Linked DNA regions of Homo sapiens: region 1 is linked to region 2. Evidence: fine-mapped expression QTL. A gene starts in region 2. The other region holds a variant in brackets. All regions are shown on one strand. Distances are between the middles of the regions.

Evidence for each region.
Region 1: its variant is fine-mapped to the expression of PDE3A in subcutaneous fat (TwinsUK, PIP 0.95).

Annotation. Positions count from the first base shown.
Region 1 is chr12:20,319,626-20,325,005 of GRCh38, forward strand. LOC105369688 (a long non-coding RNA gene) reads right to left here. Exons shown (of 3, transcript XR_931419.3): 3 at 1,191-1,237. Among named protein-coding and RNA genes, the nearest start is that of PDE3A, 46 kb to the right of the region's middle. The variant A/G (reference allele first, on the strand shown) is at 2,147.
Region 2 is chr12:20,365,563-20,370,911 of GRCh38, forward strand. It overlaps PDE3A (phosphodiesterase 3A), which reads left to right and starts at 2,975. Exons shown (of 16, transcript NM_000921.5): 1 at 2,975-4,682. The coding sequence starts at 3,723. It overlaps PDE3A-AS1 (PDE3A antisense RNA 1), which reads right to left and starts at 4,694. Exons shown (of 2, transcript NR_186033.1): 1 at 4,279-4,694. RefSeq lists a silencer at 4,013-4,307.

The DNA.
Region 1 (5,380 bases), 46 kb before region 2:
TCGTTTCCTCAAATATCAAGTGGAGGGTGAATTTACCTCAGAGTGTTGCTGTGAGATTAAATGGGATAAGGCATATAGCACATTTAGCAGATTCCTGCCATGTAGCAAGTTGAAGGTGAAGGACAAAAAAGAAGGTAAAGTTGTATTCCGGATAGAGAGGATAAAGAGTAAAATGCCTCAGGAACTTGAAGCAGCACAGCCCATTCAGGGATAAGAAACACTTGTTAAATATTAATAATTCTTCATAGTCATTGCTATTAGAACTGAGGACTGAGGACTTAATTATATAATGTTCATGGCTAAATAAGATTTACTCGATTATTTTTTTTTCCTTTGAGATGGAGTTTCCGTCTTGTTGCCCAGGCTGGAGTGCAATGGCACGATCTTGGCTCACTGCAACCTCTGCCTCCCAGGTTGAAGCAATTCTCCTGCCTCAGCATCCCGAGTAGCTGGGATTACAGGCATGTGCCACCACACCCGGCTAATTTTGTATTTTCAGTAGAGATGGGGTTTCTCCATGTTGGTCAGGCTGGTCTCGAACTCCCAACCTCAGGTGATCCGCCTGCTTCGGCCTCCCAAAGTGCTGGGATTACAGGCATGAGCGACTGCACCCGTCCTACTTGATTTTTTTAAATGCAAATAGAAGAGTCAATCCAGCAAAAGAACAACTAAATGCCACCATAGACACAGATACATACATACATTTGCACACCAATAGCATCCCAAGGGAAAATATCCTCAGTAAGCGGTCACCTGATCTGGCATTTTCAACCCTTAATAGAAAATTATGGGAAATGATTACCACAGCTACTTTGGCAACACTTTTAAGTTGTTTATTTACAATATTCAAAATTACAATTTTACAATATCCCTGTAACTCTCAACCTAAAATTGGAAATAATAATAAGCTTCAAACTGGGAATCGTTCTTGTTTTAGCCTTTCAACCAGATTTCACTCATTGGCAGTGATTCTTTCTTCTGACCCATTTCAAAAGCTGACTCTTTTATCTTGAATTGATTCCAGGTAATTGTATCTGCATCTGACCCTAGGGAAGGAACAGTCGTTTGGAACCAGTGCTATAGGGCAATAATCAGGAACTGTCTGAGACGGGCAGTGTCCAGTAGCTACCACATGACAAGAGATATCAGAATTAGAAAGGTCCCTCTGATATTCCTTGCTCTTGCTAAGAGAGACATCCGGTGTCAGTGATTCCATCTCCTCGTCAGGTCAGTTTTCCTGTGATCAAGAATAAGAAAGAAAGAAAAAAGACCTTTTATTCACTTGCTAACTGAAGCTGTATCTGTTTTTAACTAGCATTAAAATGTTCCATTCTTTGTCTAACTTACATGAATTACTCTTAGGCTTTCCTTTCACTCTTTTAAATAACAGTTTTTTTCTAGCCATAGTGGATATGCCTGTTTTCAAAATATAACTGCAAAGAGCTATTGCTGCTTCAGTGATTGTGGATTACAAGCTATTTAGGTTGTCACAGCAAATCCATTAGGGTAGAAATCTATAAGGTCTATTAAATGTGTAAACCGTGTTTAATAGTCTTTCACTTTGGTAGATGTTTATTTATAGTTATTTAGTTATTTATTATTTTCTAATTTTCCTTTTTATACCAGGGCCTTTTTGGTAGATGTTTATTTATAGTTATTTAGTTATTTATTATTTTCTAATTTCCCTTTTTATCCCAGGGCTTTTTTTTTTTTTTATTTTTAAAGAGACAGACGTCTCGCTCTTTTGACCAGGCTGACCTCCAACTCCTGGCTCAAGTGATCGTCTGGCCTCAACCTCCCTAATATCTGGGACTAGAAATGCACACCACTTTGCTAGCTTACCCAGGACCTATTTGAAATTTATTTATAGTTATTTAGTTATTCATTTTCTAATTTCCCTTTTTATACCAGGGCCTTTATTTTTTTTTTTTTTTTTTTTTTTTTTTCAGAGACAGAGGTCTTGTTCTTTTGACCAGGCTGGTCTCCACCTCCTGGGCTCAAGTGATCCTCTGGCCTCAGCCTCCCTAATATCTGGGACTATAAATGCACACCACTTGCCAGCTTACCAGGGCCTATTTGAAATTGATACCATTTGTAAAATTTCTTCTGGGTCTCTGAAATATAGTTTGTATAGCATCTTTTATAA[A/G]TATGTAGTTATAATATTTTTGGATGGTATCTTGCTATGGTTAATAAACATCAGCATATTTTAGTAAAAAAAAAATCAGGTTAGTTAGAACCCTGAATGATGCAGAGGGTAATATTTAAGAGTAGGTTTCAAGTAATAAAACTTGAGGAAGTTCTATAGTTCTATTCAAGAGGCTGAGGTGGGAGGATTGCTTGAGTCCAAGAGCTGTAGGCTTCAGTGAGCTATGATCATGCCTCTGCGCTCCAGCTAGTCTCTTTTTTTTTTTTTTTTTTTTTATTGTTTTGAGACGGAGTCTCGCTCTGTCGCCCAGGCTGGAGTGCAATGGCGCGATCTCGGCTCACTGCAAGCTCCGCCTCCCGGGTTCACACCATTCTCCTGCCTCAGCCTCCCGAGTAGCGGGACTACAGGTGCCCGCCACCACGCCCGGCTAATTTTTTGTATTTTTAGTAGAGACGGGGTTTCACTGTGTTAGCCAGGATGGTCTCGATCTGCTGACATTGTGATTCACCCTCCTCAGCCTCCCAAAGTGCTGGGATTACAGGCGTGAGCCACCGCGTCCGGCCCCAGCTAGTCTCTCAAAATAAAATAAAATAAAATAACTTCAGGAAATGTGAGGAATTTGGGTTTGTTAAGTCTAAGATGAGGTGACAGTGAGTGTTCCATAATGTTCTAGAACTTCAGTCTTTGACATGCAGTAGTGAAAAAATATAGTGGTATATAATAATACTATATTATTCTCAGGGATTGTGTCAGATCAATTGCTAACAATGGGAAGACCAGAGATCACAGTGGGGCTACCACTCCGAGACACTGGTAAACACCAGGAATACAGGGAGGTTGACTACTTTTGACACCATATAGATAAAAACAAGCTCAAATTCTTTTTTCTTTACTCAAGATACAAAATTAAAATGACAACACTTAACTGTTTTATTATGAAATGTTTATAAGAGGAGACTTGGCATATATGTACAATTTAAGAAAGAACAATAAAACAAATTGGCATATGCTTTCTACCTGGCTTAAAAAGTAGAAAATGAGCTGCAACTTAAGTATACTACCATTCATTCCTGTCTTCACTTTTTGGGAGTCAGTATTTTAAAACTTGTGTTCATCATTCCGTTAATTCTTTTTTGTGGTTTTATCACATATGTGCATCCTAAAAAATACACTATTTGGTTTTATCTCCTTTTTACTTTTATATGCTGATAATAAATTATGCTTTTATGTATACTTCGGTGACATTTTCCTGAATATTATTTTTGAGTTTAATCCATGTTGATACTCCAGTTCATTCTCAAACCAATATTATGTACAACTATATGAATTTAAGATGATTTCTTTATCTAGTCTCCCATCTATGATTTCCAGTTTTTGTCTACTTCAAATCATGCCTCTATTGACATTTTTGTGTGTGTCTCCAGATATGCATGTAGAGATAGTTCTCTGTGATATGTTCCTGGAAATAGAATTGGTGAGTTGTAGTGTACTCATAACCTTAACTTTATTGTAGCAGTGCCTAATTGTTTTCCAGACAAGTTGTAGCAATTTACATTCTCACAAGTACTCTAGATGTTCTTGTTCTATTATATGCTTTCCAATATTTGTTATTAATCATCGAAACTTTTCTCCATATCATGGATATGAAATGAGAACTTTATTTTGTTTTTATCTGTATTTCTTAACTATTAATAATATTAAGCATCTCTTCCTATGGATATTGCCTACTCCTATTTCTTCTTTTGTGAAATGCCTCTCATATTTTCCCTTTTTAATAATGAATTGTTTGCTCTTACATATTGCTTTATCGGAATTCTTTGCATATTCTGGAGATAAGATTTTAAGATTTTCTTAGTCATGTATTTTTAAAATATTGTTTCCTGAACTAATGTGCAGTTTATCTTTACTTTTTTATGTTGTCTTTCAATTGGAAGTTCTTCATTTTACTGTATTTGAATATATGAATCCTTTTCTTTATTGCTTGAGTGTTACATGCATTATTTAAGAAATTTTTCCCACTCTGTGTTCTCCTGTGCTGCCATTAAACTTTTTAAATTTTTCACAAGTAAGTTTTAAGGTATAGAGAAATAATTTGTTTGTCTGTGTGTGTGTATGAGAGAGGGAGAAAGAAAGAGAGAGAAGCAAGGTTCAGCAAGGTTCAAGTTTTATTTATCTTTTATAGACAGAAAATTGCCCTAGACTATTTGTGAATAGTTTATTCTTTCCTAACTGACCAAGAATTCTATTTCTGTCATATATGTCAAATAGCCATACACACATACATCTGGTTCTGGGCCGGCCTTCTACTTGGTTCCACTGGTTTATTTTTATATACCAGTATTACATTTTCTTTATTAAATTTTTTTTCATAATGAGAAAATAAGACACTTTCTTCTTCCTCCTCCTTCATCTTCTTCCTTATGAATATTTTAGCTATTCTAGATTCTTCGTTCTTGTGCATATGTTTTGGAAATAGCTTGTCAAATTCCAAGAAAAACTCTTTTGGAAATTTGATCAGAATTCTATTGAATATACTAACCAATTTGGGGATAATGACATTTTTTTTTAGTCTTTCTATTCATAAACATGGTATATGTTTCAATTTATAAAGATCTTAATTTCTTGTTTTTTAAAATTTCTATTTCTATTTATTTCTGACTACCGTGTATTTTTGGTTCCTATTGTAAAGAATACACTTGTTTAAATTAAATTTTGTAATTATTATTTATGGATATACAGAAATTCAGTTGGCTTTAGTATATTATCCTTAGATCTGGCAATCTTATTCTACTCTTAATTATTCTAATAATCTGTAGAAAATTGAGGTTGTTTATAGAGCTAATTATCTAATCTTCAAATAATAATAATTTTTTTCATTCCCAATTCTTAGGCTTTATTTTTGTTGTTTTGTTATATTAGATAAGGTCTCCCATATAGTAAAGTAGAAATGATTATAGGGCACATTGATGACTTATTCCTGATTTTAAAGAGAAAGCTTAACAATTAGTAAAGTTGGTTTGCTATCTACTTAGGACTTTTGCATTTATGCTCAGGAGTGAAGGTGGTCTTTAATAGTCTATTATTCCTGACTTCATTTTCATGCCAACATTACACTACCCTCGTCAATTAACTTGGGGATGTCTCTTTTTCTCTTCTTTGTAAGGCATTGTTTCAAAATATATTATTTTTGCGTGTTTGATAGAACTCACCTGTAAAATAATCTGAGCCCATTAT
Region 2 (5,349 bases):
GCACTTGTCCTGGCCAAGGAAGATGATGGGTCTTTGGCAGGTTATTATAAGAGGGACAGTGAAAAGTAAATGGATTTAGAATATATTTTAGAGACAGGATCAAGTGGATTTCCTAATCGACTAAAAGTAAAACAAGATAAACAAAGGAAAGAATCAAGACCCGTTCCCTCTTCTGGGGCCTGAGCAACTAGGTAGATGGTTATGTTCTTTACTGGGATGTAACAAGATTGAGAAAATATAGTTTGGGTGGGTAGGGGATAGGTAGGAAGGGAATTGTAAGTTAAGAATTTTGTTTTGGATACCTTATGTTTTAGGTACCTATTAGATATAAATATATAATAATCAGATAGGTAGCAGAGAATGATTGAACCCATACTACGGAACGTAAACTTACTGAATTTTACAATAGAATCCCCTGACGCTTAACTATATTTAATAAAGCTCAAATGTGAAGGGTTAGATCCTTTTCCCAAAAAACTGTAAAAACATGTTTGCTAGATTTGACTAAGTGGAAGATTTATCAAGTAAAACTTAAATTTTTATTTCTGTTGTCCATGCTCTACTATTTTTCTGCACGTACAACATTTTCCTTATTCTTTGGCTGTGTTGTCACTTTCTTGAACTAGGACTCACCACTATCTGTAGAAAAGAGGCAGTGTTTATATGTGATTGCTCCCTATCCAGTTTATGTATTGCAGCTTATTTCATTTAATATACTCTGTTAAAGGTACATTATTAGTCGCTTCTTTCAGTTAGTATAGCCCTGCAGGTTTCTGCATCTCTCTAACATTAGCATTTTGTTGTCTTTGTTCACTTGCCTCTGGGTTCTGGATGGTATGGGGAGAAAAATCTACCTTCTTTCCTTTTGATGGGACAAATAACTTTTTGATTATGATTTGTTAAAGAAACCTGGATGCCAGGACATTGCCTCCTTATTTTATTGAAGAGTTCCAGGATGTTATTAACACATGGATTTAGAATATTCTTGTTTTGCTGCCATTAGCAAATGCCATTTTTTCCTGTTACAACTTTTAAAAAACATCTGCTTCCCATACCTTAAGTGTTCAGTTTTTATGATAATATTATATTAAATTTTCTAAAGAACTGAGATAATTGTGGGGGTAGGGGACAGATAAAATTGAAATATTCTAAAATTTCCCTTACTATGCTTTTCTTTTTAACCTTGATATATGCCAGATTTTTGGTTTATTATTTTAATATGTTATTTTTGATGCCAACAGATATGAATGATTTTCCAATCAAGGTTTTTCACTCCGATGTGTCCCAGGTAGGATCTGGCATATGAATCATATGTCTAAAAAGGAAACTCATGAAAGTATGTGTGCGTGCTAGGGGGCTCATTTGTCTTTGGCAAAGACATTGCTGCTCCTGTTTCCTTAATTATTAAACAGATGGTGCCCACTGCCATTGACTAGCTGCCCAACTCATACTCCTGTGTGGTAGCACAATTCTGGACATCTGACAGAGAGAAGCTATACCTTTATAGTATATCTGCCTTCTACTAGAACAGGCTGCTTCCCATGAAGCTGTTTAAAACTTAAGTCATCTTCTCCCCCTGTCCCCATAAATTAATTTTATCTCAAGGATCTCCTTTTGGCTTTTTTTATTGCTTCATGTCTACATACAAAATACAGTGGCATATTGAATCAATTATCTAAATGCTCTAGGCTGTAAATACACTTTAACCTGGAATGTCAAGATAATTAAGACAAAATTGGATTATTAAGATTATTATTAGTGAGGGCAAATGACATCTAAGATAGCCATGTTAAAAGTGGAGTATCATATTAAAAAGACAACTAGATCCCAGGGAACATCAATAGAGTTTAAGTCCATTGAACAGATACTGAATTCTTTTTCATAATCTGCCAAAAAAAGGTTAGCTTGAAAATTTTCTTTTAGTTTCTCAAATATCACACTGCTGCAGTACACGAACCTTTACTCATTAATAACTAAGGTCCTGATTTTTTTCATATGCTTTGCTCGAAGATGTAGTATTTTGCAGCCATAGACAGTCTTCTAAGATCTCTCCTAGTGTTAACCCACCTATCCTCACCTCTCCCTTGAGATTTTTCTTTATTTTTTGATGAACTATCTGGGCTTTTAAACTTTGTTAACCTTTTTTGAGGATACGGTCACTTAATCTCAATGTAATTTTACTTTCCACAGTCAAAAACTATTGTGTAATACTCATGCACTGGATTTAAATGACTGCTGCCTCTCCTTCCTTTCTTTTTATACTATTGTGGTCTAGGTAAGGCTGATTCTTCCATCATTTGAACCAACAGGCCAGGCTTGGGTTCTCATAAAGCAGACCTTCCAGCAGGAGCGACCAAAGGATGACACTGTCACCTGAAATTGGACTGCTGTTGTACCTGACTTGGGAACATCTTTGAATCAGACAGTAGAAGTGGCTGTCATTTTCAGGGACAGTAGAAAGTATGTTGGCTCTCATCTGCCAAGTAGGCAAACACAATCTTTTTTTTTTTTTTTTCCTTCCAACGTTCTAGGGAGCTCAGCCTCAGGGCTAGCCGCAGCCCCCCACACCCCGGGGCTGCGGTGGGCTGCGCGGTGGATCAGCCTCAGCAGCCCCTGCTCCAGCCTGTAGGGTGAACCGGCCGCTTTCCCAGCAAAGGAGCAATCGAGCTGAGGGTAGCGCCTCCTCCGCAGGAGGGGGCGGGAGCTCGGCTGAGAAAGCTTTCCTAGGGAGTTGCCTTAAAGAAAGAAAGCGGAATTGTCGATCACTCCAGTTGCCAGTTTTATACAATTTTAAGCAGTCGTCGCCACTCGTTTCCCCTTTGCAAAACTGCAAATCACCACCAACCTTGCATCAAATAGAAGTGGGGAGGGAAAAAAAAAGCAAATCTCCTTCTCCCTTCTCACCCTCCCTTTCTTCTCACCCTCCCTTCCTCTCTTACTCGCTCCTTCTCCCTCCCTCCCTTCTGCGGCTGCCGCTAGTCTCTCGGTCTGGCTCTCTCTCCGACGGGACTTAGCAACTTCTTATTTCTCAGCCCCTTGTCCATTTTTTTTTTTCCATCCTTTGCCATGAATTGGATTGACAGAGGCGGGGGAGGCTTTGCTTTCTGCCCCAGGGAATGGCGATTCGCGTCCTGGGGCCGTGCCGGGGAGAATCGGCCGAGGAGAAAGAAAGAGTGATAGAAAAAGAGCTGCAGGAAGGAGGAGAAGGGAGACCTCCATCTGCCGCGGGCCCGGCGCGCTGCAGCGCAGCGCAGCGCCGAGCTGCGCCTCGGAATGGCCCGGAGCCCGCCCTGCGCCCCCGGCTCCTCCAGCGTCAGCGGCTCCTGCGCGCGGGATGCATTGGGCAATTTTTGAAATCCTGAAGTAGGAAGAGACCCCGGAGGATATAAGTCGGGGGTGGGGGTGGAGCAGAGAATCTGTGAAAGATATTCAAAGAGAGAAAAGGGGAATCCTGATCGTTTCTGCCCGTGCTTGTTTTCAACTTGAGCGTGCTAGCCTTTAACTTGAAGAAGTCTCATTGGAGCATCTAGCATTCTCCAGGAGTTATTCGAAAGCTGAAACTTTCAGTGGATTGTGGGCCTGGGGAGAAGAAGGATTCCGAGGGTGGAATTGGGAAGAGCGTGCGTGCGTGTGTGTGTGTGTGTGTGTGCGCGCGCGCGCGTGGGTCGGGGCGGGGGCGTCGGGGGGCCACTGGGAATTCAGTGAAGAGGGCACCCTATACCATGGCAGTGCCCGGCGACGCTGCACGAGTCAGGGACAAGCCCGTCCACAGTGGGGTGAGTCAAGCCCCCACGGCGGGCCGGGACTGCCACCATCGTGCGGACCCCGCATCGCCGCGGGACTCGGGCTGCCGTGGCTGCTGGGGAGACCTGGTGCTGCAGCCGCTCCGGAGCTCTCGGAAACTTTCCTCCGCGCTGTGCGCGGGCTCCCTGTCCTTTCTGCTGGCGCTGCTGGTGAGGCTGGTCCGCGGGGAGGTCGGCTGTGACCTGGAGCAGTGTAAGGAGGCGGCGGCGGCGGAGGAGGAGGAAGCAGCCCCGGGAGCAGAAGGGGGCGTCTTCCCGGGGCCTCGGGGAGGTGCTCCCGGGGGCGGTGCGCGGCTCAGCCCCTGGCTGCAGCCCTCGGCGCTGCTCTTCAGTCTCCTGTGTGCCTTCTTCTGGATGGGCTTGTACCTCCTGCGCGCCGGGGTGCGCCTGCCTCTGGCTGTCGCGCTGCTGGCCGCCTGCTGCGGGGGGGAAGCGCTCGTCCAGATTGGGCTGGGCGTCGGGGAGGATCACTTACTCTCACTCCCCGCCGCGGGGGTGGTGCTCAGCTGCTTGGCCGCCGCGACATGGCTGGTGCTGAGGCTGAGGCTGGGCGTCCTCATGATCGCCTTGACTAGCGCGGTCAGGACCGTGTCCCTCATTTCCTTAGAGAGGTTCAAGGTCGCCTGGAGACCTTACCTGGCGTACCTGGCCGGCGTGCTGGGGATCCTCTTGGCCAGGTACGTGGAACAAATCTTGCCGCAGTCCGCGGAGGCGGCTCCAAGGGAGCATTTGGGGTCCCAGCTGATTGCTGGGACCAAGGAAGATATCCCGGTGTTTAAGAGGAGGAGGCGGTCCAGCTCCGTCGTGTCCGCCGAGATGTCCGGCTGCAGCAGCAAGTCCCATCGGAGGACCTCCCTGCCCTGTATACCGAGGGAACAGGTAAGCACTGGCAACTCCTCTCTCGGCTCTTGGAAACTTGAAACACTTGGCAACCGGCGCAGAGTGGAGAGAATCCGAGCGCTGGGAACTAAAGGGAAGATAGCCTAGAAAACTGGTCTAACTTCAGAATTAAGAAACTAGCAGGTTTTTTTTTTGTTTTTTTTGTTTTTTTTTTTTTGTTTTTTTGCCCTCTCTTTCACACAGTAGTTTTATAACCTGAACGACTGAAACACAATTAACAAAACTAGATGGCATGTGTAGGGTCTTCCACAGCTGGGCCAACTTTTTAGATCTGCTACACCTGGTGTATGGCTTGCCTACTCTTTTCAGTACTCTTACGCTTTCCTTCCTTAGCAGAAATTTTAGAATTAAGTTTAGATTTTAGCAATGAGTGATTTTTTTAACACATAGATTTTACTAGATTTCTACTTTTTAAAAAGTAAAATCTTTTTAATGAAATGATATTAAACATTTATGAAAACCAGTAAAAAGATTCTAGAGCAAAGCAAGCTGTGCTTGAAGGTGAGGAATTGATACACATTTTCTGGTTTTGCAGTAAGTTTTATTTGGAGAGACTGCAGCTGATGGTGCCCAATTTGTTTTTAAATATAATTTAGGGGCATACATTATTACATGCTAGTGTGTTTTGTATCACAAACTTCAACTT